Linked DNA regions of Homo sapiens. The protein of the gene in region 3 binds, or shares a complex with, the protein of the main gene of each other region. Each region holds a gene or a part of one and is shown on either strand. Other genes may lie near its edges.

Evidence for each region.
Region 1: SNRPD2 (region 3) and SNRNP200 share a complex: the UniProt entries of both Homo sapiens proteins name them as parts of the U4/U6-U5 tri-snRNP complex.
Region 2: SNRPD2 (region 3) and CRIPT share a complex: the UniProt entries of both Homo sapiens proteins name them as parts of the minor spliceosome.
Region 4: SNRPD2 (region 3) and CWC22 share a complex: the UniProt entries of both Homo sapiens proteins name them as parts of the minor spliceosome.

Annotation. Positions count from the first base shown.
Region 1 is NC_000002.12:96,281,538-96,288,561, forward strand, and holds part of SNRNP200 (U5 small nuclear ribonucleoprotein 200 kDa helicase), read right to left. Parts: intron 6,433-7,024; coding exon 6,326-6,432; intron 6,021-6,325; coding exon 5,902-6,020; intron 5,624-5,901; coding exon 5,469-5,623; intron 5,341-5,468; coding exon 5,151-5,340; intron 4,948-5,150; coding exon 4,774-4,947; intron 3,804-4,773; coding exon 3,643-3,803; intron 3,049-3,642; coding exon 2,821-3,048; intron 2,468-2,820; coding exon 2,276-2,467; intron 2,177-2,275; coding exon 1,998-2,176; intron 1,816-1,997; coding exon 1,664-1,815; intron 386-1,663; coding exon 277-385; intron 1-276. UniProt on the Homo sapiens protein: Catalyzes the ATP-dependent unwinding of U4/U6 RNA duplices, an essential step in the assembly of a catalytically active spliceosome. Plays a role in pre-mRNA splicing as a core component of precatalytic, catalytic and postcatalytic spliceosomal complexes.
Region 2 is NC_000002.12:46,620,198-46,627,221, reverse strand, and holds part of CRIPT (cysteine-rich PDZ-binding protein), read right to left. Parts: intron 3,459-7,024; coding exon 3,355-3,458; intron 3,060-3,354; coding exon 2,995-3,059; 3' UTR 1-2,994. UniProt on the Homo sapiens protein: As a component of the minor spliceosome, involved in the splicing of U12-type introns in pre-mRNAs. Involved in the cytoskeletal anchoring of DLG4 in excitatory synapses.
Region 3 is NC_000019.10:45,688,953-45,696,365, forward strand, and holds the start of SNRPD2 (small nuclear ribonucleoprotein Sm D2), read right to left. Parts: upstream 3,002-7,413; 5' UTR 2,937-3,001; coding exon 2,935-2,936; intron 1,716-2,934; exon of another isoform or gene 1,620-1,715; intron 396-1,619; exon of another isoform or gene 281-395; intron 1-280. Other genes in the region: QPCTL (glutaminyl-peptide cyclotransferase-like protein), read left to right, coding at 3,752-3,958, 4,461-4,604, 6,485-6,766. UniProt on the Homo sapiens protein: Plays a role in pre-mRNA splicing as a core component of the spliceosomal U1, U2, U4 and U5 small nuclear ribonucleoproteins (snRNPs), the building blocks of the spliceosome.
Region 4 is NC_000002.12:179,997,292-180,004,315, forward strand, and holds part of CWC22 (pre-mRNA-splicing factor CWC22 homolog), read right to left. Parts: intron 2,616-7,024; exon of another isoform or gene 2,440-2,615; intron 1-2,439. UniProt on the Homo sapiens protein: Required for pre-mRNA splicing as component of the spliceosome. As a component of the minor spliceosome, involved in the splicing of U12-type introns in pre-mRNAs. Promotes exon-junction complex (EJC) assembly.

The DNA.
Region 1 (7,024 bases), on a different chromosome or scaffold from region 3:
AGATGTCTGAGATTAATGACGTAACGTCAAACATTCCTCCTGGCTCTAATTTCCTACCTCTCCCAGCTGCTGAATAAGGAAGCACAATGACTAAAAAGCAAATGTGAGCCTAGGTATTGAGACACAAAACTCTCAAACACTTGGCTCTGGTGGCATCTCAGCTGTTAACTTCCCTAACACCTTTTCTTCATCCTAGCTTACTTTCTGTGTATCTGCAGATTCACATTCATTTTAGGAAGGAGGTCTGTGCTAACACAGAGCACCAGTTGTACTCACGCGTGGATCTTGCCATTGTAGTACTGGGTATCCATGATGATTACCAGGTGGGCAGCCACGTTCATGCCCCAGCAGAGACTCCGAGAAGCCACCACCACCTGGATAGCCCCTGAGCAGTAGAGGGGAGAGGAAGGCTGAGGGCAGGGGTCTCCGGGTGAAGTAGGCTCACTGCCTCATGGGCAGGCCGTGGCTTACCCTGTGCTATGTTTCAGAACTCACAGCAAGGCTGGCTAGGAACAAGGTCTAACATGAATGAGAGCTAACACATTGCTATGAGGTAGCTCCACGCTGCTGGTGCCTTGCTCTGGGACTATCCAGGAGAAAACAAGTCATCATAGAACAGAACCCAAAGCCCAGGAACACCAAGGCAAAACTACAGCTGATGGACTGCTCCTCTGACCAGAAAGTGCTAACACTCATGCAGCCACGGGCTGGCTCAGCCATGCCAGCAAAACAGAGATCACTCTAAGCATGCCCCAAACAGGCAGATTCAAGGGCCAAAGAGTGACAGGAAGTGATTCTGGCAGAAGAATCTCCAATGAGGCTCCAATAAACAGTATTAAAACGTAAATCTTTGCACAAAATGCCACAGGGCAACAAGAGACAGTGGCCAGCAAGAGTGAGCTCAAGGGAGAATCAGAGCTCTCCTCTGTGCTAATCTCTAAAGTCTAACTATCTTGGTGAGACGGTTTGGATCTGTGTCTCCACCAAATCTCGTCGACCTGTAGTCTCCAGTGTTGGAGGAAGGGCCTGGTGGGAGATGACTGGCTAATGGAGGCAGAGTTCTCATGAATGGTTTAGCACCACCCACCCTTGGTACTGTCTAGTGAATGAGTTCTCACGAGATCTGGTTGTTCAAAAGTGTGTAGCACCTCCCCACTCACTCTCTCGGTCCTGACTCCTGCCATATAAGATGCCTGCTTCCCCTTTGCCTTCCCTGAGGCCTTCCCAGAAGCAGATAACACCATGTTTCATGTACAGCCTGCAGAACTGAGTCAATTAAACCTCCTTTCTTTATAAATGACCCAGTATCAGGTATTTCTTTATAGCAATACAAGAACGGACTAATACACTTGGGGAGTCTGGTATCCACGGAGAATCAGCGGTCTGGTGGCCAAAGGTCCTGGACTCTAGAAAACCAGGTTCTGAAATAGCACAACCTGATGTGTCTGCCTGTTTTCTCACCTGGCAAGTAGGGATAGTGTTTGTCTCACCTGCCTCACGAGGTTCTTGGGAGGATCAAATGAGTTAACAGCCAAGAGTCCTAAACAGTATTTTGAAAATCTCTGGTATGCTGTAGAGAAAACACTGCCACCCGCACCCCTCAAGTTTAACACCACCACTTGGTGATACCCTTGCTATGCTCCCCTTCCGTGGCCTGACTTACCTGAGCTGAAGAGCTGCTCCACCAGGCGTCGCTCCATGGGGCTGAGCCCCTCATGCAGGTAGCCCACCCCATTTAGCAGCGTTTCCTTGAGCGTGCTGTCACTTAGCTTCTCCAGGTACGGAATCAGATCCTTCTCGGTGCAGTGCAAGAACCTGTGCGGTACAGGCACTGGCTCAGCTCAGAGTAGTTCAATTCCTGGCAGACACTTTGCCAGCTGTGCAGAACCTGGCCCCAAGCAACATGGGCTAACCCCACCCTCATAAAGAGGACACCCTTGGAGTAGGCCAGCCTCACTTAACCTAACCCCAACCCCCAGACGCCAGGCCCCACCTACCTCTGCCGTTGGATGTCTGCTGCACAGGTGGTGAGGATGTCAATGGCAGTGAGGCGGGTCTGCTTGCGAGACGGCACAAAGACAATGACAGGCTTCTTGGGCGAGTGCTTGGTGATAGCATGGTACACAGGCTTGGCCATGGAGAGCAGGCGGGTTTGTGTATGGCTGATGTTGAAGCCCTGGCGACCGGGGAGAAGAAAAGACACCAAGGTTATCAGACCTGGGTCACTCAGGATCTATGTGACACCCCACAGACGGATGAGGAGAGTGGGTCCTACCTGGATGTGCAGCTCCAAGGGGACGGGACGCACATTGGGATGGAAGTTGAAGGTGGAGGTGGCACTGCAGCCCAGCCAGTGGGCCACATCCTTGGCATTGGAGAGCGAAGAGCTGAGTGCCACAATGCGAATGGGCCGCTCAATCTGGGAGGAGATGTAGCGCATTCGGGAGCAGATCACTTCTAAGACAGGCTGGAAAGAGGGAGGGAGGGAGGGTCACTGCAGGCCAAGGCTCCCATCCTCTGCCTGGAGGTCCCCTTTGTGAACAGCCCAACAGCCTCAAAATGACCTCATTCTTCCTTCTAACTAGGAGCTCTCATGTGTTTGGTTCTACCTCCTCCACGGCAGCCAACCTCCACTAAACAATACTGTTTTCCTAAAGTACTACCAAAAAAGTTAACATTGTCCCTTTGGAATAGGGCAGCAGGTAGAATCCTCTGGGGAGAAGCCCCGAGCCTCCGTCCTCAGACCCAAACATTAGGTCCAATGCCAAGGCCACTTGGTCAGTCCCAGTCCCTCATCTGTGCTGCAAGGTCACGCCATACCCCATTCTCGCCCCCGATAAGGTGGACCTCATCCACCACGAAGAGGTTGATGTTCTGCACGTTCTTGCGCTGCTTCCATCGCCGGGAAAGTATGTCCCACTTCTCAGGGGTGCTGATGATAATGTTCCCTTTGCCCAGCAGCTTCAGGTCTGTGCTGGTCTCGCCTGTCAGGAGTACCACCTTCTTGTTGAGCCTGTCCTGGAACTTCTCGTACCAGTCCATGTATACCTGGCGGGCAGAGGAGGGAGGCAGAACAACACTAGGCCATACCAGGCATCTTTCACTTATGTGAGGAAAACCTGAGATGCCAAACAGACCTGTTGACCTGCAGATCTCAAGCTACGTTCTAATCCCATAGCAGCCTCTATGCGATGCGATGGGGCAGCTTTTTCTTTTTTTTTTTTCTTTTGAGATGAAGTCTCGCTCTTGTTGCCCAGGCTGGAGTGCAGTGGTGCGAACTTGGCTCACTGCAACCTCCGCCTCCCGGGTTCAAGCGATTCTCCTGCCTCAGCCTTCCAAGTAGCTGGGATTACAGGCGCACACCACCACGCCCAGCTAATTTCTGTATTTTTAGTAGAGACAGGGTTTCACCATGTTGGCCAGGCTGGTCTCGAACTCCTGATCTCCGGAGATCTGCCCGCCTCGGCCTCCCAAAGTGCTGGGATTACAGGCGTGAGCCACCACGCTTGGCTGGGGCAGCTTTTCTTTAATACACAAACTGAGGAAATGACCCTGCAAATTTCAGGGCTTAGAAAGCCTTCATACGGAATCACAGATGAAATGCTTCTTGGGAAATTCACATGACACAGCGCCACGTCATACCTGCTCTGCCAGGGCCTCCATGGGGGTGATGTACACACAGCGCCCCTCCGAGCTCTGCAGCAGCATTCGCAGGATGGCAAACTCTGCACAAATAGTCTTCCCGCTGCCCGTGGGGGCCCCCACAAACACGTTGTCGTCACTGTTGTATACAGTGTTAAACACTGGAAACCAACAGAAAGAAGCAGTGTAAGTATCAAGAAGGAAGAAGAGACGGACTGGGACATGGATCAATTGTCAAAACAAAGGACAACATACGAAATGAAGTCAGGCAGTTCTGGAGTGCAGACAGAGGAGCTAAGGCATCCAAGCCTCTAACTCCAGGCCAGCCCTACTGTACCCCCTTACCTGCTCCCACTTAACAGTTAAAGGGGAAGAGGCCAAGATCAAGAGCCCAGGTCCCCTGGAGATGTGTGGGATGACAACAAAAGCAAAGCAAAAGAAGCCACACATTCTTCTTTGCTTCTCAGGGACTAGGATGCGGGACAGAAAGGAACTGGATCCCTTTCTCTGCCCCTTCAACACTCTCCTGCGTTTCCTAGAAATAGCCTAAGGTAGAAAGTAAGAGCCTTATCCCTGGCATCAAGACTGAATTAAAATCCAAGTTCTACTATTTATCAGTTGGTTCAACTGGGGAACCCTCTATGCCTCAGTTCCTCACCTATAAAAGGAACACTAATGGCAGTATCTCCAATAGAGATTCCTTTTAGGCTTGATGGGAGGAATAAGAGAGAAAACACCGGTGATGTACTCAGCCATGGACTGAGGAAACAGTGCCTGCTCTGTGAATGTCCCCGTTATTTATCATGATGTGGTGAGGAGGCTTCAGTGCCACCCCATGGTTCTGGTTCAATACTTGAGCGCCAGGGGCAGGCCTCTAAGCCTCCTGGGCCCGAGAAATGACCATGCCATGTAAGGCCTTGCTCTATTGCCCCTCCACAGTGACACATGCAGAGCAGCAAAGCAACCAAAGGCTTCTGACAAAGGAAAAAGTCCTGGTGGGTCCCAGCGGTCACACTGAGGAGCTCCCAGACCTCCCAAGTGCCTGAGCACCCCCACTCCCCTGCCTGCCACAGAGCACATCTGTCTCCCGGTGACTTCAAAAGCCTCCAGAGGAGGGATGGAAACACTTACCCTGGGTCTGGATGGGATTGAAGAAAGGAAATTTATCTTGGTAAAGACTCTCAAAGGCACTGTTTCTCAGAGCAGACACGGGCAAGGGCTGCAGGTCCAAAAGTTCGGTTGGAGGGGGGTACTTCTCCGGCAAGATCAGGTGCCGGAAGGAGACAGGCAGCTGGGTCTCACAAGCTGCCAGAAAAGAAACAGGAAGGATATAAGCACTGCTCTCTTTCCCTCACTGGCCTCTAGATCCCCTCCATGAACACTGGAAACCTAGGCAGCATATGTATCACTCTGTCCCCAGCAAGGGCAAGCCCGGGACAAAGTGCAAGACATTCTTCTACTGTCCTTGGAGGGACTGTTCCTGGGGACTCTGGAGAGGAGACACTCACAGAGCCAGCGGTCAGACACCACTCGGATGAAGTACTGAGGGGGCAGCGGTTCAAAGACAGGCACGAAGAATGTAATGAGGTGCTCGTCCTGGGCGTACTTGGCCTTGAGGAGAAAATACTCATGGTGCAGAATCACCTCGCTGTCCACATCCTCCACCAGAATCCAAAAAGCCTCGGATGAACCATGCACCTGCCAACAGGAGCAAGGGTAAAAGGAATGTGAGTCAACGTAGACTGAGTGCCTCCAATCCATCTCCTCGGCCCAGCAACGTAGACTGAGCACCTCCAATCCAGCACCTCTGCCCAGCAAAGCCTCACCTTTTCATCCCACTGGAAGTCTGGCGTGATGGTCAGCTCCACCTTCAGGGTGGAGCGTGTGATAGGCTGCAGGTGCACTGACAACTCCAACTTGGGAAACAGATGGACATATTTGTGGATGGTCTTCCCCATCTTTGGCATGCGGATAAGCTCCCCTACAAGGAAATGAGAGTACTGAGGCTGCAGCCCAGCCTGCCTACTATACTGCAAACTGGGCCTGAGGGCCACTGTGGGAAAGGGGTAGGGTCTTCCCTTTATGGTCAGTGGAGCCCAGGATTCCAAGTCCCCAGACCAAGGGCCAGCCTGTACTTCAGTGGGACTTGGGGAGTGAACACAGGATACTAATGCACAGGCCTAGGAACAGGAAGACTACATAGGCAAACTGGGAGAGACACCCAGGCAGTGAGGACAAGGGCGAGAGCATCCCACACACCAATCTCATTATGATTCAGGTCGTACAGACGCTCAAAGGGGAAATTCTTCTTCTCAATCTTCTTCACTACTTCCTCAGGGAGTTTCCGGAACTGGCGCAGAGGACACATGGACTGCCACCTATCCAGGAAGGAGGCAAAGCTGTTGGTCCCTTCTGCAGGGATGTGACAAACCACCCACTTCATGGCTTCCAATAGTTTAGCAGTGACTACACAAAACACAGTCATTAAAGGCAGACACTGACACTGTGCCAGCCCTGGCCTCCACCACAGAGGGCCTTCCCTCTTCTCAATGTGCACCAAGGTTCAGGTCATACTTCCGATGTCAGGTCTGGAGATCAGATGCACCCTGAGGCTTTCCCATCAGACCCTTGGGTTGGGGACCCCCACTCATGGTGACCAGCATCCAGCTCACTGGGTCCTTACATGCGTTTGTCGATCATCTTGCAGAGGTTCAGGGTCTTGTCTGTAAGCTGTGCCCAACCTCGGTTCAGGACAATTTCAAATATCGCTCGCATCAACCGGCCAGCCGACTAAGCAAAGAAGCAGCATTCCCACTGTTAAGTCTCGACTATCCCCAGGCCTCATGAGCCACTCTACACACGGTTTCATTACCTCCAGCTCTGACACAACCACCCACCCTAACTCAAAGGCAAAGTCCCCTCTGTCTTTACGCCTTTCTCCGTTCCATATAGTAGATGCTTGCCGGATGGGGAACAATTAGAAGAGTGCTGCGGCTCAAGGTCACTGCACAACATTTTAACCTAACATTCACTGCATGATTTTAAAGCTTTTGAGTCATTTAGCATTTAGAGTTCTAGGAAGAGTTGAGGGTACCAGTGACCTGTTCTTAGAGGTAAAGATGAAGAGCAGCTAATAAAACCCTGTGCCATTTTTGGATTTATTTATGAGCTGTGCAGCAACAGTGGGAAATCACTTTGCTGCTGGGAAGCAGACACTGCGTGCTGTGGCTCTTCCTGTCTCTCTGAGGGCCCGTGGAGCCTCGAAGCATTCCCTCTTAAGGTCTTACCTTTCCCACGTGCTCAAGATGTATACTACAGAGTGGCTGTACCACACATGCACCAACCAACTACCCGGCAAGAGCAGAACTAAGCACTCCTCCCA
Region 2 (7,024 bases), on a different chromosome or scaffold from region 3:
ATTCACAAACTGTGCATCTGAAAAAGGTCTAATGTCCAAAATCTATAAGGAACTAAAACAATTCAGAAAACGAAAACCAAGTAACTCGTGGCCAGGTGTGGTGGCTCACTCCTGTAATCCCAGCACTTTGGGAGGCTGAGATGGGTGGATCACCTGAGGTCAGGAATTCGAGACCAGGCTGGCCAACATGGTGAAACCCTGTCTCTACTAAAAGTACCAAAATTAGCCACGCTTGGTGGCAGGCACCTGTAATCCCAGCAACTCAGGAGGCTGGGGCAGGAGAATCGCTTGAACCCGGGAGGTGGAGGTTGCAGTGAGCTGAGATGGTGCCATTGCACTCTAGCCTGGGTGACAACAGTGAAACTCCATCTCAAAACAAAAACAAAAACAAAAATACACACACACAAACAAAAACCCATTAAAAAAATGCCAAAAGACTTGAACAGACACTTCTCAAAAGACAACATACAAGCGGTTAACAAACATGAAAAAATGCTCAACATTACTAATCAGATAAATGCAAATCAAAACCACAATGAGTTACAATCTCACACCAGTCAGAATGGCTATTATCAAAAAGTCAAAAAAATAACAGATGCTGGTGAGGCTGTGGGAAAAACGGAATGCTTCAACACTGTAGAAGCCAGTGCAGTGTAGAATGCGCCTACACTGATGGAAATGCAAATTAGTTCAGCCACTGTGAAAGCAGTTTGGAGATTTCTCAAAGAAGTTAAAACAGAACTACCATTTGAACCAGCAATCCCATGACTGGATATAAATCCAAATGAAAATAAATTGTTCTACCAAAAAGACACATACACTCACATATTCATCACAGCACTATTCACAACAGCAAAGACACAGAATCAACCTAGATGCTCATTAATAGTGGACTGGATAAAGAAAATTGGTACATATACACCACAGAATACTATGCAGCCATAAAAAAGAATGAAAATCATGTCTTTTGCAGCAACATGGATGCAGCTGGAGGTCATTATAGTGAATATACACAGGAACAGAAAACCAAAGACCGCATGTTCTCACTTATCAGTGGGAACTAAGCAATGGGTACACATGGACATAAAAATGAGAACAGACATAGGGGACTACTGGAGGGAAGAGGGGAGGGAAGGGGTGAAAAACCACCTGTTGGACTCTATGCTCACTACCTGGGTGACAGGATCATTTGTACCCCAAACCTCAGCATCACAAAATATACCCATATAACTCACCTGCACATGTACCCCTACATCTAAAATAAAAGTTGAAATTATAAAAACAACAACAACAACAAAAAAAATGAAATGTGAGTTAGGCAAGTCCAGATTCTAGCTGATCCCTGAGAAATGTACTTTTCTCCAAGTCAATGAATCCAATCTTTAATGGATCTGGGATGCTCTCTGACCAGGTCCTGTTATGAGTTTCCTGTGTTATAATTAAAAACCCCAAACTGATTAAGCATGAGAGGATACTTCCTGCTCTCAGATAAATTATTTATTATATTCTGTATTATCCTTGTAATTTTTCTGGATATGAATAAATAACAATGTATCTCAGAAAAACACATTTTGAAAAGCCTTATAAAGTTAAAACTTTAAATGCTTTTCATCAAAATGTTATGACCAATAAAAATGCCATTCATGTATCTCATCACACTTTCTATACATTTTGTAGTGATATGTATTTATACATACTGCAGTTGGAAATAGGGAATGCTTTTTTGGTTTCCCACGGTAGGCTGCAGGTTTTAAAAGCAGAAGTCCTGAACCTCTGAAGGCAACATAAGAAAAGTATTCATTTGAAACCTGTAGTGTTAAAAAAAAAAAAAAAAAAAAAAAAAAAAGAGAGAGGCCAAGTTCTGTGGCTCACACCTGTATCCCAGCACTTCGGAAGGCTGAGGCCAGAGGATTGCTTGAGATCAGAAGTTCGAGAACAGCTTGGGCAACATAGTGAGTCCTCATCTCTACTAAAAATAAAAACTAGCTGAGCACAGTGGCACACGCCTGTAGTCCCCAGCTACTTAGGAGGCTGAGGGGGAAGAATTGCTTGAGCCCAGCAGATGGAGGCTGCAGAGAGCCTGATGATACCTCTGCACTCCACCCTGGGCAACAGAGTGAGCTCTTGTATCCAAAAAAAAAAAAAAAAAACAAACAAATTTTAAAAAGGGAGAGTCAAGATGTTTGCTCTATTTATTTCTTTTAGGGGGCAAGACAGGAGGTAAAAAAAAAAAAAAAAAAGTTTGGTTTTTGCTTCAAAGAGCTTTTCTCAGAGCAGGGATTTATTTTCATTACATGCAACATGGACAAACACTGTTCTGGTTTTCATGACAATTTGAATTCAAAGTAATATGTTTTTCTAAAATTCAGTGTATTTATTTGGCCATATGGATGCTCCTTGTGTTCTTGGTCACATATTAAAGAAACTGGCACTTTGGCTGCAAGAACAAATAAAAAATATCATAAATCCAACTGGTCTTTGATTTGGGTCTAGGTTAATAACTAAAGAACCATTCAGCAATAATGGCTTGAAACATTTATATATCCTATGAAACCGCAATTAGTTAAGAGGCTGCTGATTCTAATAACTATGACACCAGCAAGGGAGTGAGGGGAGAAATGTTAACTCTGGATGCCAAATTCAGAGCAAAGTATCTATTATCTCCTTCTCACTTTTGCAGTATCTATAAATAAAGTGGTGGGGGGAGAATTATATGAATAATGTTAAATAAAAGTGCATACAGAACTGAGAAATATTTTCATGGAATTTGCCACTTAGTTCTTAAAATTCTTATAAGGAAAATAACCATTTACAACAAAAGACTAGTTACACTGTTGCTGTTTAGAACATGAGAGCAAAATGAGTAACAATCAAATTCTCTGGTTTAAACTTAATTATCTTAAAACATGTTATTCTGTAAGTTGACATCTATGCCTTGAAAATTCAAGGCAGAAAGTAAAATCATTTAGAAAGCCAGAAATTCCATCAATACATCTAGACAGATGTTTGCTTGTAGTTTTTGGTATCCAAAACCTTTTTTCCACACATCGCACAGATGCCTGAAACAAAAGAAGATATGTGATCAATCAAATCATAATACCAACTGTTTGGTTTAAGTCAATCCTGAAGCTTAAAACATAATTTAACAGCATCAGGAAAGAAAAGAAAAGAAAAAAAAAATATATATATATATATAATTTTAATTATAAACAGGTTTTAGGTTCTATTTTGCCTTAGGATAAAGAGAGTGTTTGGCTAACAGAATTTATGACAGGCTACATCTTTTCTGTTAACCAAATTAGCAGCAAATGAAGTCGGTTTTATGAATAGAAAACGGTATTAAAAGAAACTTACCTTTTTTGTAGGCACAGCCCTGGCAGTAATGAGAACCTGGTTGGTGCACAGAACTTTTACAAATTCTACAAGTGGAGAACTTATTCTTTCCATATGGATCAAATCTAGAAATTTTTTTTAAAGAGAGAAAATTGTATATTACACTAGAAACACTCTTAAATAACCCCACTTACGCAACACACAGGATTAATCCATGCTCTCCATCCCTCCATCAACCTCTACAATTGATGGGTTTAGCCTATTCCAGATGGCTACTGTCTGATATGCCTGTACATCTCTGCTCTGCTCCATCCATGTGAGATATATACTTATAAAGAATCAGTTGTACAGTATTTATTCTTGACGTGTTCATATCAGTCGTATCTGTCATTCTATTTGTGTGACATAAATATTATGGAAACTGATGAAATGTGGGTGCAAAAAGAGTGACTGATTCCATATAACCTAAGTGACTATTTTAGGATGACTAGGAATCATATGAATTGCTATTGAATTAGGTATGGGTAAGACAACTGTTGAAAACTGGGGGAAAATCACTAGGAAAGTAACTCCACACCTCAAGCATCAATTTTTGCTCTACTTTAAAGAAACTGAACATATTCTGATTGTGATTTTTGTGACGACAATCATGTAAAGCACTTATCAGTCGATTTATGCTCAAAAGGCTTTGTTTCAATACCAAATGATTAATGCATCTACAGTTATGCGCTTTAATTTAAAATAAAGTATGTGTATCTTTTAATGACTGCTTACATTAGCTGACATTTTTAATTAACTGACTCAATCCTTTTAGATAAAAGGGCTTCCACTATATAAAAATGCCATCTTATAGTGACAGGAGTGAAAAAAAGAAATACTTTCCCCTAAAATGGCAATAATACTCTGATTTAAATGTGCTTCCCTAACATTTTTACAAAATGAGTTTTTGTAATGATCCTCATATACTAGATACGAAACACCGTCCTAGAACTGGTGTCTTCTCTTGGGTATAGTACAACAGCCCATTTACAAAGGTTAATTTTTCCAAACACAGAGAATATCACTTTTTTTTTTTTGAGACTGAATCTCACTCTATCGCCCAGGCTAGAGTGCAATGGCGCAATCTTGGCTTACTGCAACCTCTGCCTCCCAGGTTCAAGCAATTCTCCTGTCTCAGCCTCACAAGTAGCTGGGATTACAGGCATGCGCTACCACGCCCGGCTAATTTTGTATTTTTAGTAGAGATGGGGTTTCTCCATGTTGGTCAGGCTGGTCTCGAACTCCCAACCTCAGGAGATCCGCCTGCGTTGGCCTCCCAAAGTGCTGGGATCACAGGCGTGAACCACTGCGCCCAGCTGAGAATATCACTTTACTCCCCACAAAAGATAGGTACTCTTCTTCCTTTCAATAAGTTCAATTTGTTTGGACATGTATTTCCAGAGGCTATTTTTTCTTAAAACCATATTTTATTATTCAAAAATACACATTGTAACCTTGGAAATCTTTTTTTTTTTTTTTTGAGACGGAGTCTCGCTCTGTCGCCCAGGCTGGAATGCAGTGGCGCAATCTCGGCTCACTGCAAGCTCTGCCTCGTAGGTTCATGCCATTCTCCTGCCTCAGCCTCCCGAGTAGCTGGGATTACAGGTGACCGCCACCACGCCCGGCTAATTTTTTTGTATTTTTAGTAGAGACAGGGTTTCACCATGTTAGCCAGGATGGTCTCGATCTCCTGACCTTGTGATCCGCCTGCCTCGGCCTCCCAAAGTGCTGGGATTACAGGCGTGAGCCACCGCACCCGGCCTAACCTTGGAAATCTTAAAACTGGCAGAGTTTTTTCTTAAAGTAACAATGCATCTTATAAATAACAGTACCATAGATTCCAAGCAATACTGTAGTACATTTTCCAAAGTAAGAGAGTACCCAAGAGTTACAGCTACTTTTTAATGATATCAGAGTAAGTTTGAGAGCATAAAGGAACTGGAAGTATATAAAAGCATAAAATCTGTACAAATAATAGCTCAGTCAATAAAAACAGAATGGTTCTCAAAGACCTCAATAAGTCAGTCAATAATATATAGTGTGAATCTGCATTAAAGATGCTATTATGTGCTAGGCACTGTATGTAGTTAAGGCTTTATTGTTGTTATTTCTAATCCTTGGGATGACATCAGAAAACAGGTATTTATTCATTCAGCAAATATATACTGAGTGCTTAATATTACATGGTATTTACTGTTCTAAATACCAAAGATGAACATGATAGGCAAAGCCCTTGCCCTCATCAGATAATATTGTAGTGAGAAGAGGTAAACAGTAAGTAAGGAAACAGACAATCTAATAAAACAAGCAAGGTTTTCAAATAGTAGTATTATAGAGAAAATTCTAACAGGATACTAAGGCAGAGATGAGGAAAAGGAAAGAAGAGATTAGTTTAGATGCTGATTAGGGAAACTTCTCTGAAGCTGAGACCCAAACAGCAAGAAGGAGGCAGATACGTAAGCTCTAACGGAAGACTCCTAGGAGACAGCAGCAAGTACAAATCTCTTTGGATGGGAGTGGGCTTGGCAGAACTAATAAAGACAGCATATGATGAATGAGGAGCAGTGTGGTACAATACGAAGCCGGAGAGGTGGGAGGGGTCATATTAAGGAGGACCTTGTAAGAACATGGTAGGGGGCTTAAATTTTATTCTATGTGAAAAAGAAAACCAGTGGCGGATTTTAAGCAAAGGAACTTTGTAAAGGATCACTCTCGTTACTATGAGACAACTGCGGGAAACTAGAGAAGCAGGAAGATAGTTCAATAGTTATTACAGTTCCAAGTAAGAAATAACAGTGGTTTGGAAAAGGGTAATAGCAGTGAGATGTACAGAAGCAGGTGGTTTCAGGTTACATTTTACGTTTTGGAGGTAGATCCAAAGAACTTGCTGATGGATAGGGGAAGTAGGGGAAAGGGAGGACTCAGTGAGGAATTCTAGCTTTTAGGCTTGAACAAGTGGATTAGAGAGTGGTGCTACTATGATGAGAAGACGGAAGGAAAAAGAAGTGGCCTGTTAGACATTAAATGAGGTATGTCAGATAAACTGCTAGATATACGTTTAGAGCTCAGAGAAGTCAGGCCAGAGGTATAAATTTGGGAGTTATATATATATAATAATATTATAATATATATATAATAATATTATTACATATATATATATATAACATATAGCTTGAATTTAAAGCCAGTAGATTGAAGTCACTCTAAAAGGTCACTTGTGATCTCGACAAGAACAGTTTCAGGGCTGTTGTGGGGATAACACATGACTAGAGTGGCTGAAGGAGGGAAAGGAACTTAAGGACACTGAAAAAGTGTCTAGGTAAGACTTTGGAAAACTTCTGATGTGAAGGGGAGCAAAGAAATCAGATGGCAGATGAAAGGGTTCACGAAATTTTTTTTCTGAAAGAGACTCTCACTCTGTCAACCCAGGCTGGAGATCAGTAGTGCGATCCTGGCTCACTGCAGCCTTGACCTCCCTGGGATCAAGTGATCCTCCCACGTCTGCCTCCTGAGTAGCTGGGACTACAGGCGCGTGCTGCCACACCCAGTTAATTTTTCTGTCCTTTGTAGGACAGGGTTTCACATGTTGCCCAGGCTGCTCTCAAACTCCTGGGCTCAGATAATCTGTCTGCCTTGGCTTCCCAAAGTGCTA
Region 3 (7,413 bases):
TTGATTTCTTGACCTTGTGATCCACCCGCCTCGACCTCCCAAAGTGCTGAGATTATAGGCGTGAGCCACCGTGCCCAGCCAGACATTTTCAACTCTGCATGTCTCAGGTCGGGATCCAGATCACCCAACCACCCAAGCCTACCCTATCTACAGCGTTCCCCATCTGCTTTGATGGTAACTCCATCCTTCTAGTTCTCTGGGCAAAAACTCTTTTGTCAACTTGATTCCTCTTTTTCCCTCACATCCTACATGAAATCTGTAGGAAATGGCCGTTTCTTACCATGGCCTAAGCCTCTGTCATCTCTGTCCTGGAATCTTTCTGGTCTCTCTGCCTCCACCCACGTTCCCTGACAGTCTGTTCTCCACAGAGTGGTCTGAGGGGGTTGTGCTAAAACCTAAATCATAACATGTCACTCTTCAAAACCCTCCCAGGGTATGGGTACAGTGGCTCATGCCTGTAATCCTAGCACTTTAGGAGGTCAAGGTGGATTGATCACTTGATGTGAGGAGTTCGAGACCAGCCTGGCCAACATGGTGAAACCCCATTTCTACTAAAAATACAAAACAAAACAAAACAAAACAACAATAAAAAAAACAACCAACAGAAAATTAGCCAGGCGTGGTGGTGCACGCCTGTAATCTCAGCTACTCGGGAGGTTAAAGTAGAAGAATTGCTTGAACTCAGAGAGTCGGAGGTTGCAGTGAAGTGAGATCATGCCACTGCACTCCAGCCTGGGTGACAGAGCGAGACTCTTGTCTCAAAAAATAAATAAATACAAATTAGAAAATACAAAAATTAGGCCAGATGCGATGGCTCACGCCTGTAATCCCAGCACTTTGGGAGGCCGACGCGAGGTGGATCGCCTGAGCTCAGGAGTTCGAGACCACCCAGGGCAAGATGGTGAAACCCTGTCTCTTCTAAAAATGCAAACAAATTAACCAGGTGTGGTGGCGCATCCCTCTAGTCCCAGCTACTTGGGAGGCTGAGGCAGCAGAAACGCTTGAGCCCCAGCAGCGAAGGTTGCAGTGAGCCAAGATTGCGCCACTGCACTCCAGCTTGGGCTACAGAGTGAGACTCCATCTCAAAAAAAAAATTAGGCCGGGCGCGGTGGCTCACGCCTGTAATCCCAGCACTTTGGGAGGCCGAGGCGGGCGGATCACGAGGTCAGGAGATCGAGACCATCCTGGCTAACACGGTGAAACCCCGTCTCTACTGAAAATACAAAAAATTAGCCGGGCGAGGTGGCGGGCGCCTGTAGTCCCAGCTACTCGGGAGGCTGAGGCAGGAGAATGGCGTGAACCCCAGGGGGCGGAGGCTGCAGTGAGCCGAGATTGCGCCACTGCACGCCAGCCTGGGCGACAGCGAGACTCCGTCTCAAAAAAAAAAAAAAAAAAAAAATTAGCTGGGCATGGTGGCGCATGCTTGTAATCCTAGCTACTTTGAAGGCTGAGGCAGGAAGATCGCTTGAACCCAGGAGACAGAGCTCGTGCTACTACACTCCAATCTGGGTGACAGAGCGAGACTCCATCTCAAACAAACAAAACAAAAGAAAACCCTCCCATCCTCCCCCCATCTCAGTGTAGAAAGTAAAACCCCGACCAGACACGGTGGCTCACACCTGTAATCCCAGCACTTTGGAAGGTCGAGGCGGGTGGATCATTTGAGGTCAGGAGTTTGAGACCAGCTTGGCCAACATGGTGAAACCTGGTCTCTACTAAAAATACGAAAGTTAGCTGGGCATGGTGGTGGGTGCCTGTAATCCTAGCTACTCGGGAGGCTGAGGCAGGAGAATCGCTTCAACTCAGGCGGCGGAGGTTGCAGTGAGCTGAGATCGCACCATTGCACTACAGCCTGAGCAACAGAGCAAGGCTCCGTCTCAAAAAAAAAAAAAAAAAGAAAAAGAGAAAAAGATTTTTCTTTTCCCTTGGGGACTAGAGGTTTCATTCACTGATGTATCCTATGTAGCTTAAGCAGTGTCTGATACATAAGCATTCAATGTAATATCTGCTGCACTAATAAATGCGCAAAATCATGTCAATGACTCGTTCGTTATCCGTGTAAGTTGTGAATCAAGTCGAAAACGCACCCGTCTCCAGCTCAAATGATCAAGATAAGTCCCTTATTTCAAATAATTATTTCTAAAAGTCCTAACTTCCCTCCCCCATTATTCGTTTTATTTCTTTTGTTTCGTTTTGAGATGGAGTCTTACTCTGTCGCTCAGGCTGGAAGTGCAGTGGCGCAATCTCGGCTCACTGCAACCTCCGCCTCCCGGGTTCAAGCGATCCTCCGGCCTCAGCCTCCCGAATAGCTGCAATTACAGGCGCCCGCCACTACGGCCGGCTAATTTTTGTATTTTTGTTAGAGACGGGGTTTCACCACAATGGCCAGGCTGGTCTCAAACTCCTGACCTCAGGTGATCCGCCCGCCTCGGCCTCCCAAAGTGCTGGGATTTACAAACCTGAGCCACCGCGCTCGGCCTCCCCCAGTATTCGTAAAATCGCTGCCCCTTAACATTCATTTCAATAGGACTAATTATCTAGGACCACTCCCGTTATCGTTTAAAACATGTTTTTCATAATTAAATTTTTTTTTTTTTTTGTAGAGACGGGGGTCTCGCTATGTTGCCTAGGCTAGTCTCGAACTCCTGTGTTCCAGCGATGCTCCGCCTTGGCCTACTAAAGTGCTGGGATCACAGGAATGAGCCCCCGCGCCCAGCCCAGGGCGTTATCTGATAAAGCTGTCCCCTCTCCCGAAGTCACGATGCGTCAAAGGCCCCACGCCCGTTCTCAAACTCATCAGGAGAAAAGCAGGACGCTGCATCCCTAAAACATCTGCCCCTGCCCCCCCCGCTCTGCTCAACCCTTCCCACACTCAATCGGTCAAATATCCACCCTCAACCTCATTCCCGCCGCCTAAGCCTAGCCCGGCCTCACATGATGGTCACTACGCTCTCCGTTCACTCCCGTTTCCTCCGCGTTGCTGCTGCCTGAGGAGAGAGAGGCGGGACTTCCTCTTCCTGCGACCCACTTCCGTTGGCGCCTGCGCAAAGCCAACCAGTAAGTGGAGGCGTGGCCTGTTGCCACAGCATTCCCCACCAACGGTGCACAATGATGGAATAAAAGCTTCGGGTAGGGGTTCGCGGCCAGTCAGAACCACACGGGGGCAGATGTTTATGACAATGAAGACAAAAGGAAAGGCAGTCTGATTCAAACCGTTTCTTGAAGAATGGTACAGGTTGAAGGAGGGAAATGACAAGCTATTTCCAAATGCCCGCCGGCCGTGACTTCGGGGGCGCGGCCTCCGTGAAGCCAATCCGCTCCTCGCTTCGGAGACAGGCACCGCCCCTCTTCCCTCTGGGACGCGTTACTGACGTATCTACTGATCTTTCCGACCCTGCGCCACCAATCCCCTGCCTACATCCGGAAGGGGCATGGACCTGCGCCCGGGAGATCGAATATTTTCCATGATCAAACGCTGTTCATTGGCTTTCCCTCCTCCGCTAAGGCGGAGCCTACTTCTCTTGCGCTCCCATTTGGGTCGTGCCATTCTCAGGGGAACCAACCCCAATACCTAAGGGAGGCTGGGAGGCGTGTCCTCAGGACCGTAGTTCTTATTGGTTTCGCTGCTCGCTGTGGGGTGGGCTGGTGCAGCCGCAGCTGTTGCTTATTGGCCCACCGATTCCATGGGGAGGAACTTGGCTGGGCCTAAACTCAATCCGTGGTCTGGTACAGGTTTCAGGGCAAAGCGGCCATGCGTTCCGGGGGCCGCGGGCGACCCCGCCTGCGGCTGGGGGAACGTGGCCTCATGGAGCCACTCTTGCCGCCGAAGCGCCGCCTGCTACCGCGGGTTCGGCTCTTGCCTCTGTTGCTGGCGCTGGCCGTGGGCTCGGCGTTCTACACCATTTGGAGCGGCTGGCACCGCAGGACTGAGGAGCTGCCGCTGGGCCGGGAGCTGCGGGTGAGGCTGGGCGGGGACCCGGGCACCGCGGGGACCCTCATTCCCTCCCCGCTGTTACCCAGGGTTGACGTGGCTTTAGCGTACGGCCCTAACCGCAGATGCCACCGTCTTCGTCATCTGAGCGCATGACCCTTACCAAAGGAATAAGGCTTCGGGCTGGTTCTGCAACAGTAGCTTCCTTTTAAGAGGAAAGGTCTGAAATAGTAAGACGGGGGGGTTCAGGGTTCTACGCCTTTAGTCAACTATTTGGAAGAGTCCCTTCCTCCATCTCCCCTCTCTCTCACTGGGCCTCGATTTCCCCATCAAGTTTGAGGTAGGCTGGACCGGATGGTCTTGGAAGGACTTTTCCTGAGCCTTGGATTTATCCTAGAAGTCTCCGATGCTGGAGGCGGCAGATTAGGAAGAGAACCCGGGGCTCCTCGCGGGTGACGGCGCCCGGGGTAGGGTTGAAATGGGGGGGTTGCTCTCATTCTTCCCTTCCCTATCCCACCTCCTTCCCAAGGTCCCATTGATCGGAAGCCTCCCCGAAGCCCGGCTGCGGAGGGTGGTGGGACAACTGGATCCACAGCGTCTCTGGAGCACTTATCTGCGCCCCCTGCTGGTTGTGCGAACCCCGGGCAGCCCGGGAAATCTCCAAGTCAGAAAGGTAAAGGGACCCACCTCCAGTCCCTGACCCCCTAGCCCTCCAGGGAATGGGAAATAAGAATCCTGTTCAAGATCCCAAAGAAGCTAAGAGGAGGAACTGGGGCTCTGACTGGAGTTAATCGGACTCTAGACTCCATGCTGGTAACAAACCACCAGGCTGTACTGCCCCCCTTAATGCCCCCACCAAAAGCTTACTGTGTGCTAGGCATAGGCAACAGACAGCCCTATAAGGTGGGTACCAATATGATCTTCATTATGCAGATGGGGAAACTGAGGCTCAGAGAGGTTATACACATTGCACAAATCCTACAGATAATAAGTAGTAGACCTTAGCCGGGTGCAGTGGCTCATGCCTGTAATCCCAGCACTTTGGGAAGCCAAGGTGGAAGAATCACCTGAGAAGTTTGAGACTAGCCTAGTCAACCTAGTGAGACCCAATGTTTAGAAAATCATAGACCTAGAGTTGAACCCAAACAGGTTGGCTCCGAGCTGGTGCTGTAATGTATCTGTTGTCTTCCAGAAAGCATGAAGAGTCATTTAAAGGCCAGGCGCAGTGGTTCACACCTCTAATCCCAGCACTTTGGGAGGCCGAGACAGGCAGATCCCTCGAGATCAGGAGTTTGAGACCAGCCTGGCCAACATGGTGAAACCTCATCTCTACTAAAAATACAAAATTAGCCAGGCGTGGTGGTGGGTACCCGTAGTCCCAGCTACTTGGGAGGCTGAGGCACGAGAATCACTTGAACCCAGGAGGCGGAGACTGCAGTGAGCTGAGATTGCGCCACTGCACCCCAGCATGGGTGACAGAGCGAGACTCCATCTCAAAAAAAAAAAGTCACTTAAATACTGCCTGAGTCCCAATGCTACCTCATCCACTTAGATTGTGACCTTGGACTGGTTTCTTTTTTATTTTATTTTATTTTATTTTATTTTGAGATGGAGTCTCACACTGTCGCCTGGGTTGGAGTGCAGTGGCGCGATCTCGGCTCACTGCAACCTCCACCTCCCAGGTTCAAGCAAATCTCATGCTTCAGCCTCCTGAGTAGCTGGGATTACAGGTGTGCACCACCATGCCTGGCTAATTTTTTGTATTTTTAGTGAGACGGGGTTTCACCATATTGGCCAGGCTGGTCTCAAACTCCTGACCTTATGATCCGCCCACCTCAGCCTCCCAAAGTGCTGGGATTACAGGCGTGAGCCACCGCGCCCGGCCTGGACTAGTTTCTTAACCTCTCTGAGCCCATTTCCTCATCTGTAAAATGGGGTCATGTATTGGCAGTCCCTCCCCTAAATGGTTCCTAGAAGAGGGCTTAGCACACAGTGAGAGCTATTTAAGGGTAAGCTGTGATGAGTCTTGCTGGCTTCAAGAGGTGGGGTCTCCCCAACATCTGGCACCCAGTAGGTACTCACCAGCACTGTCAAGGGAATGATTTTAATCAGAGTAGGGGGCTGGGCACAGTGGCTCACATCTGTAATCCCAACACTTTGGGATGCTGAAGCAGGCAGATCACTTGAGGTCAGGAGTTCGAATACCAGGCTGGCCAACATTGTGAAACCCCATCTCTACTAAAAATACAAAAAATAGCCAGGCGTTGTAGGGGGCGCCTGTAACCCCAGCTACTCAGGAGGCTGAGTCAGGAGAATCACTTGAAGCCAGGAGGCAGAGGTTGCAGTGAGCCAAGATCAAGCCACTGCACTCCAGCCTGGGTGACAGAGCAAGACTCCATCTCAAAAAAAAAAAGAAAGAAAGAAAGAAATCCATTCAATCAGAGTGGGGCTTTAGTGTCAACCCATCTGCTCTGCATGGCTCAGGTCACGTGGCCCTTCTCCCCACCTCCTCCCCAGTCCCCGTCCACCCTCCCACCTCTCTCTTGCCGCTAGTTCCTGGAGGCCACGCTGCGGTCCCTGACAGCAGGTTGGCACGTGGAGCTGGATCCCTTCACAGCCTCAACACCCCTGGGGCCAGTGGACTTTGGCAATGTGGTGGCCACACTGGACCCAAGGGCTGCCCGTCACCTCACCCTTGCCTGCCATTATGACTCGAAGCTCTTCCCACCCGGATCGACCCCCTTTGTAGGGGCCACGGATTCGGCTGTGCCCTGTGCCCTGCTGCTGGAGCTGGCCCAAGCACTTGACCTGGAGCTGAGCAGGGCCAAAAAACAGGTGAGGAGCAGGAGTCGGGGAGGGTAGTGGGCTACCTCCACCTTTTCCCAAGCCCCCACCCTCCCTTGCCTGGACATTTGTCATCCCTCTCGTCTTCCCACTCTACTCCACGCACAGAGCCACAGGGATCTTTTTTTTTTTTTTGAGACGGAGTTTCGCTCTTGTTCCCCAGGATGGAGTGCACATGGCGAGATCTTGGCTCCCCGCAACCTCTGCCTACTGGGTTCAAGCAATTCTCCTCCCAACCTCAGGTGATCTGCCCACCTCGGCCTCTCAAAGTGCTGGGATTACAGGCGTGAGCCACCGCGCCTGGTCATCACAGGGATCTTTTTACCTTCTAGATGTCAGATTCTCTTTCCTCTCCCCCAAACCCTCCCAGGGCTCCCGCCTCATTCCAGCCATAATCCAGAGTCCTTATATTGGCCCACGAGCTGTGCCCTGTTACCTCTCCAGCCTCATCTCCCACCCCTCACCTCTTGCTCACTCTGCTGTAGCCACCCCCACCTCCTCTGGGTTCCTCAAACCCGCAGAGCTTGCTCCCACCTCAGGGCATCTGCACTTGCTGTTTGCTTTGGATAGAATGTGCTTTTCTGGCCAGGCTCCGTGGCTCACACTTGGAATCCCAGCACTTTGGGAGGTTGAGGTGG
Region 4 (7,024 bases), on a different chromosome or scaffold from region 3:
TATATATATACTGTTCCTTAGAGTAATGACTAAAAAAAAAAAGTACAAAATGTAGCTTAAAAGGCTACAAATTAAAATAGAATTTTAAAAAATATTTAAAACAGAGGCTACCCCCTCCCTCACCTGAGGATGAGAGCCCTGTAGGGATAACCCTTATCTCAGCTGGATTTTAGGACCATTTGCCTCAACAAGATGACTCTGTTGAAACCAAATTGCATGACTCCTTCCAAAGCTCCTGTTTTAATGGCTATAAAGGTATAGAGAGCCATAAAACTCAAAACTTTACTCGACTTACTTTTGCTCAAAGATATTGGTATTTTTTTCCCTACCTCTACTAGCACAACCATTTAACATTTCTAACATATCCTTTATTACCTTTAAACCCAGTGTTATTTATACGTACATTTGTTCCCCAACAAATAATACAGCACTTCTGTTATTTGCCCAGCATCTTTCTAGGCACTGGATAGGCAGCAATGAACTACCGTAACAAAATCTGTTCATGTGAAGCTTACATTCTAGGTATAAGAAACAAATCTATAATGATAAACAAAACACTAAGCCACTCAAGCAAGGTGACAGGTTGGACTTTTTTCCTACAGGTCAGTTTTAAATCACTACTTAACAGTGTAAAACTAGTTTGATGTCACTATATTAAACACAACTTGAATCAAGAAAAAATGCATGACAGGAGAATTACTTGTACATATATTGGGGCCCACCTCTGACTTACAAAATCAGAAAATGGGCAGAAAGTGTAGGGGAAACCCATGCATACTTGTTTTATGAAAGTATTCCCAAGGTAACTCCAAAATCCAACTTTTCCCCAAGTCTCCTCAGCTTTTCAATTTTACATAAGAAACTTTGGTTCTCAATTTGTTCTCAAACCATGAGCCACTTAGGCAGAATATAGAGACCCCACAGCCTACCTACTTTATAGTGAAGAACTTAGTTGTAAATCAATTGGAAAGGGAAACAGAAAATCCAAATGTATTAATTCTTAATAATTCATAGGTAAGAAGTGTTTTTTAAACTTGAGAAATTATGGCCACAATTTATAATCACTTATACAATCTTCCTCAATCCTCATAATTACCCTGTTCTGGTGATTTTTTTTTTAGCCATGTTTTTCAGTGAAACAACTGAAGTACAGAGAATTCAAGCAATTTGTCCACGTAAATTACACCTAGTAAATGGCAGAAGCTAAACTTCAAAGCCAGGTTTATCTGATGCCAAAGCCATATATTTTGTCCCAATGAAAATGCCAACACTAACGAATTGAAGCCAAAATGGTAAATTATAAAATGTAAACAAGTACAGACTCTACTATACAGAAAATTATCCTAGCCTAAACTGATCCATTCGTTCAAAGTTCCAGATAGCAAAGACTGTGATTTAATATAATGAAGCACTACTTCTTTTCAAACATTCATAGTAATTTTAAGGATTCCTTTTTATTTAATTTAGCATACCTAGAATTCACTGTGACTAGGTATACTATGAGCAAAAAATAAAAATAAAAAATCACTTGACCCCATTGCACAAGATTTAGCGTTTTCCTTTGCTACTCTCCTGGAGTCTTACACCCGGTTCCTCTTCCCAACCTACTTACACATTTCAGAACAAGCAATTTCTGTGCATTTTATTTCTATTTAAATTTACATATTTCAATTTACATATTTCAATTTAGTGAGTTTTCTTCTGATCGATATCATCTTTCCCCTTTCAACTTTCATCAGCAAATAATTTCTGGCAATAAAGTACAATCTGTTACATTTCCATGTCTCACAACGTAAGTGTGAAAATGACAATATGGTAAAGTAGACTGCTATCATAGTTCTAACAAAAAATGAATAAAGTATTGTCATTGTCCAGATTTATGCAGAATATGCCTGTTCGGAAATTCTGAGTTCAACATATGCATGCTAATACTTACACTAATCGGAAATTCCTGAAATGAGAGCAATTTATCTAGAGTTTATAGCACTCTCTGCTCTTCTAAGCATCACTATGTGAATTTTATGGTGAATTATTAAATTTCTTTCCCCTTCTCACAAGAAAGCAACTCAACAAAACCACACCTGTTCTCCCGAAGAAAGGATATTTTCCAATAGGAGATATAGTATTCACGAGAGCACTATTAAAAAAAAGATAGTTTTTCTCTCAGTTTCATCAAGCATTAGAAAGCAAAATATTTAATAACATATATAAGTACGTCAGACTGTTAAGCAGAAAACTGTGAATTCTGCAATCATCTCAAAAATTAAGAAAATGAGAAAATATTCAACTAATGGCTGAAATGCACTGCTTTCCAGATGATTTCCGTAGCAAAACACTTCTACCATTGTCACTTCGGTGTTCTCAGTCCAAGTTAGAGGAACTTGCTGAAACATATTGTCATAAAATTGCTAAAGGAAAGGGGAATCAATAGTGAGTTACCTTTAGTTGGCTCCTCTGGCTTCTAAATAGTAAAAACAGGTTTGGTGAATTTCAAACATTTTAACAGAGTTCATATTTAAAACAAAAACAAAAACCAAAACAAAAACCTTAGTTGCCCAATGGGGAAAGTGGTAATATTATACAATACAAAATAAAAACTGTCTTAAAATTATTCTAAATGCCAAAATATAATGGGAGGGGACATAACGGAACGGAATTCTCAGAAAATACCTCAACAACAGCCAAGCCCCCAAGGAACGGATTTTCCTTTTCAGGGAACAAATAGGAGTAACAGATTGGCTTCGCTCTTGAACAATATAAAACAAGATTGCTATGTACTTTCCATATCTGTACTGAAGGAAAACTTACTTGTTTTAGAAAAACCGTTTCTTGCTATTTTTTCCTGTCTTAATTTACATATTAGTGAAAAAATTGCCTCATGATATACCTCATAAGGCCAAAAAATTATAATTTGATGTCAGCATAGAATCACAATTTCAAGAAAATAAAAGGGTCAAAATACTCCTGTCTCTTTCTAGAAAAGTCACCAGGTACAGGTTGAAAATCCTTTATCTGCAGTTCTAAAATCTGTAAAGCTCTGAAAATACAAAGATTATTCTTAAGCATGTGGCAACTCACTTGAGAGCAAAACTTAGCATATACTGACTTGATACTTAATGTGACTTGATACAGTGCAGAAATATTAATGTGTTTTGACTAGAGGATGTTACTCCAGACCCCAAAAGGGGGGATTACTTAATATGTAGTATAGGCACTGCAGTTTTCTAAAATCTACAAGATACTGAAATCAAAACACTTCTGGCTCCAAAAATTACAAATAAAGAGTTGCAGAGCTGTCCTCCCTTTTGCTTCATAGTCATTGCATATGCCAGGTGTGCTGACTCATAACCATTTGAATGACTAGATTGCCAGGTTCAAGTACAGGGCTAGAAGTTGTGCAGACAGTTCTGGACATTGTTTTCTGTAAGAAGTAAGTAATATAAAAGCATTTGACTGGTCTGCAACTCTGTGTGGAGAGTAGACAGCCCAAATTTTCAGACACTTTAAGACAGTAAGACACAGAGGAGTGAAAAAAAAAAAAGACATTTTAATGAACCCAGTGACACCATTATCTATACTGAAAACCTCACATTATAAATTGGGAGGTAGTATTACCCCCATTCATTTCCTGTATCATGAAGCTAGTCTATTTTAGGCTGTTTAAGTAACCAAATAAAGAGTTAAGTGATCCAATCATTTGGAAATACTATTAATTTTTTTACGCATAGGAAGATTCCCCAATGTGCTTCTTTTCAACAGAATGCAGGATCTATGAGAATAGAAATTTGTCTATTTTTGTTAGTTTCAACATTTCAATAAGCTGTCTCTTGATTTACAGTACAGTATTGATTTCTATTTAAGTTGGTTTTAAAGAAAAATTCTACATGTTGAACTTTTTAATGATTCATTTAAAAATAAATTATGATATTTATGGGGCAAATTCCCTTTATCCTGTCCCCTCTCTAGTTTTACTGTCTCATCCCTACACAGCTATTTTGTGATATGTAAGTTCACACTTGATGCCTCTAATTTTTTTTTCTTTTTTTTTTTTCTTGAGACAGAGTCTGACTGTCACCCAGGCTGGAGCGCAGTGGCATGATCTCAGCTCATCACAGCCTCCACCACCCAGGTTCAAGTGATTCTCATGCCTCAGCCTCCTCCTGAATAGCTGGGATTACAGGTGCGCACCACCATGCCCAGCTAATTTTGTGTATTTTTAGTAGAGATGGGGTTTCGCCATGTTGGCCAGGCTGGTCTCAAACTCCTGACCTCAAGTGATCTGCCCACCTGGGCCTCCCAAAGTGCTGGGATTCCAGGAGTGAGCCACCATGTCCAGCCTGATGTCTCTAATTCTTAACCTCTCCTACCCACTGTAATTCAGCTTTCCCTTCCCACTACTCCACAGCACTTACCAATGTTACACAGTAACTTTTTTTCTTGTTGCTAAATCCAGGGGCAGCTTCCTTCTTTTATGGGACATTGCTCTAGCATTTGGCACCTAATCCCCTTCTTGAAGTTCTCACTTGTCAACTTACAGGGACACCACCTTCATTTGTCCATCCCTTTAATATTTACTATGCCTGAGAGTTTAGTATTTGCTCATGAATTTATGTTTTGTTCATTGCTACATTCCCAACACTAGAGGCTCTCAATACATATTTGTTAAATGGATGAATGAATAGTCCTTATCTTTTCTTTCTCCATATTATCTGTGGAAGATCATCTCCATCCCCATAGCTTTAATTAACATGCGAAAACAACTTTTTACTCCAGCCAATCTTCTCTAGAGTTCCAAATCATGATGTCCAATTTGCTACAGGAAACCTCTAAGTGGATGTGCCAAAGGCCATCTGAACTAAAGAAATCCACAGTGGAACTAATTATTTCCTTCTCCCCATCTTAAACCAGCTCTTCTTCTAAGATATGACTTACAAAGCTTCCCAGGTGGCAATTTCCTTTTCCTTACTCCCTGTAAGTCACCAAATCCTACTGATTCTACCAAATCTGCCCATGTTTCCCCCTCATTCTGTCACTGTATATAGGAGGCTGGGGGAAGGTTCCATTTAGGCTAGGGCCATAATTGATATTTATATTCAGTGGCTGAGAAAAGCTGGGTGCAGTGGCATGTGCCTAGAGTCCCAGCCTGGGCAACATAGTGAGATCCCATCTCAAAACAATAGTAAAAGAAGATGAAAAAAGAAAAATGCTTACAGAGAAAATGAGGAAGTATGAAGCTAAGAGAAAAAGTACAGTCATGGTCTTTACTAAAGGCAGTGTCTATGTACGGTGGGGAGATATATACATTACACAACAGACAAGGCATTGAGGACTCTGTCCTTGGGTAAAGAAGAAATGTCTAAGTGCTACAACAATGTCATAAACAAGTGTTACTGGAAAAGAGGGTTTGGGACATACAGAAAGAAGTAGGTCTTGAAGCTGAGTCTTAAAGAACAAGTAGGAATTATCCATATCGAAAGGGGAAAAGGTCATTCAGGAAATACGATAAGCATGTGTAAAGACTCAGAGACAGAGAATTTGGGGATTCCAAGGTGTACATGAAAAACTGAACATGAATAAGATGGAACATGAGAGACTCATTAAGCTAAACTATGAAAGGCTCTGTATGAGTACACTGGATCCTCAAGGTTCTTGGTCACTGCTACATATCCAGAACCTAGGACAGTGTCTGCTACTTAATAAGTTCCAAGTCTAAAATTAAATAAAAAACGGGGAGTGTAGATTTCTGCTGATTACTCCAATTTCTGCCTACATAGAACTTCCTATAATGCCATTTTGTCAACTTGTTCATCAAGGAATACAACAGCAGCGTTGTCTCACCTATTAACTCCTACTTCTTGGAAATACTAAGATTTCCAAGTCTTAGTACATCAAGACAACACTATCAGATGCCACCCCCTATTAGTCTTCACTCCATGTTAACCTGTGGAACAGCTTGAAAACACTTCCTCATTGAGTGAGATGAAAAAAATACTAGTTCCTTTGCAGGCACTGCAAAAGGAAATCTGTCCCTGAAGGTGCAGTTCTTTTAACTTACAAAATCAACCCTAATTACTGAATATGCCATATGCCTTCATCACACATTCAAACCACTCTCTCCTGTCCCAAATCTGTTCCTCAGCTTGCCTAATTAAGTATATGGGTGAACACATTCTGCCAATTTTCAAGGCACAGCTTTGAAAGTCACCTGGTTATTTAATTAGAGAGCCACGTAGTAAACCACATTCTGGTTTAAAGAAAACTTGGAGGTGTTGGCCTCCACAGAGAAATTTAGCCCCTAGACATGCAAGCACTGCATTCTACTACAGAGGCTCCTGTAGCCAGGTCTAAAATAAAGCTATCCTGACAAACTATTTCAGGAAGGACTCACAGGGTAACTTTTCAGGTGGAAGTGCTGAACTCTGTCTAGCTCCACCCATTTATAAGTTAGGCTGAAAGACAGGTTAAACATGAGTCACCGAGTTCCTCCTCCCCACTAGCTAACCCATTCCACAGGAGTTAATATGTCCCAAGGCCAAGGCAGCCCATACCCCGTTTTTGGTATCTGTTCACTAGGAAAGACTTATTAACTTTATTATATAAAGGCTAGCTATAATCCATGCTTAAAGTTTGTACTTTGTTGTAGGTATTCAAATGTCTCTTCCAATGTCCACTTGGGAAATGTACATACTGAGAAAAAGTTTAAGTCTGGGAGTTTGCTGAAACTAGTATGCTCTCTGGCTTTATTGTTCCACCACCCTCCCATGCTCAGATAAACAGAAAAGTAGGGAAATTCGACAAGGGAGGCTTCAAAGTTATAAGAGGGATGCATGAATGTATTACCAATAGCCACTTCTTTCTCGGACTAGCTCCAGGCACCATGAACAAACCATGACCAAGTTAGGGATATGATGAGTAGTACAAAATTCCATTTAAATACAAGTGGACAATAAATTGAAAATATTATTCAAGTTAAGGCATGGGCATCTGAAATACAAAATGCATCACTGTGTTGTCTTTTGGGTGG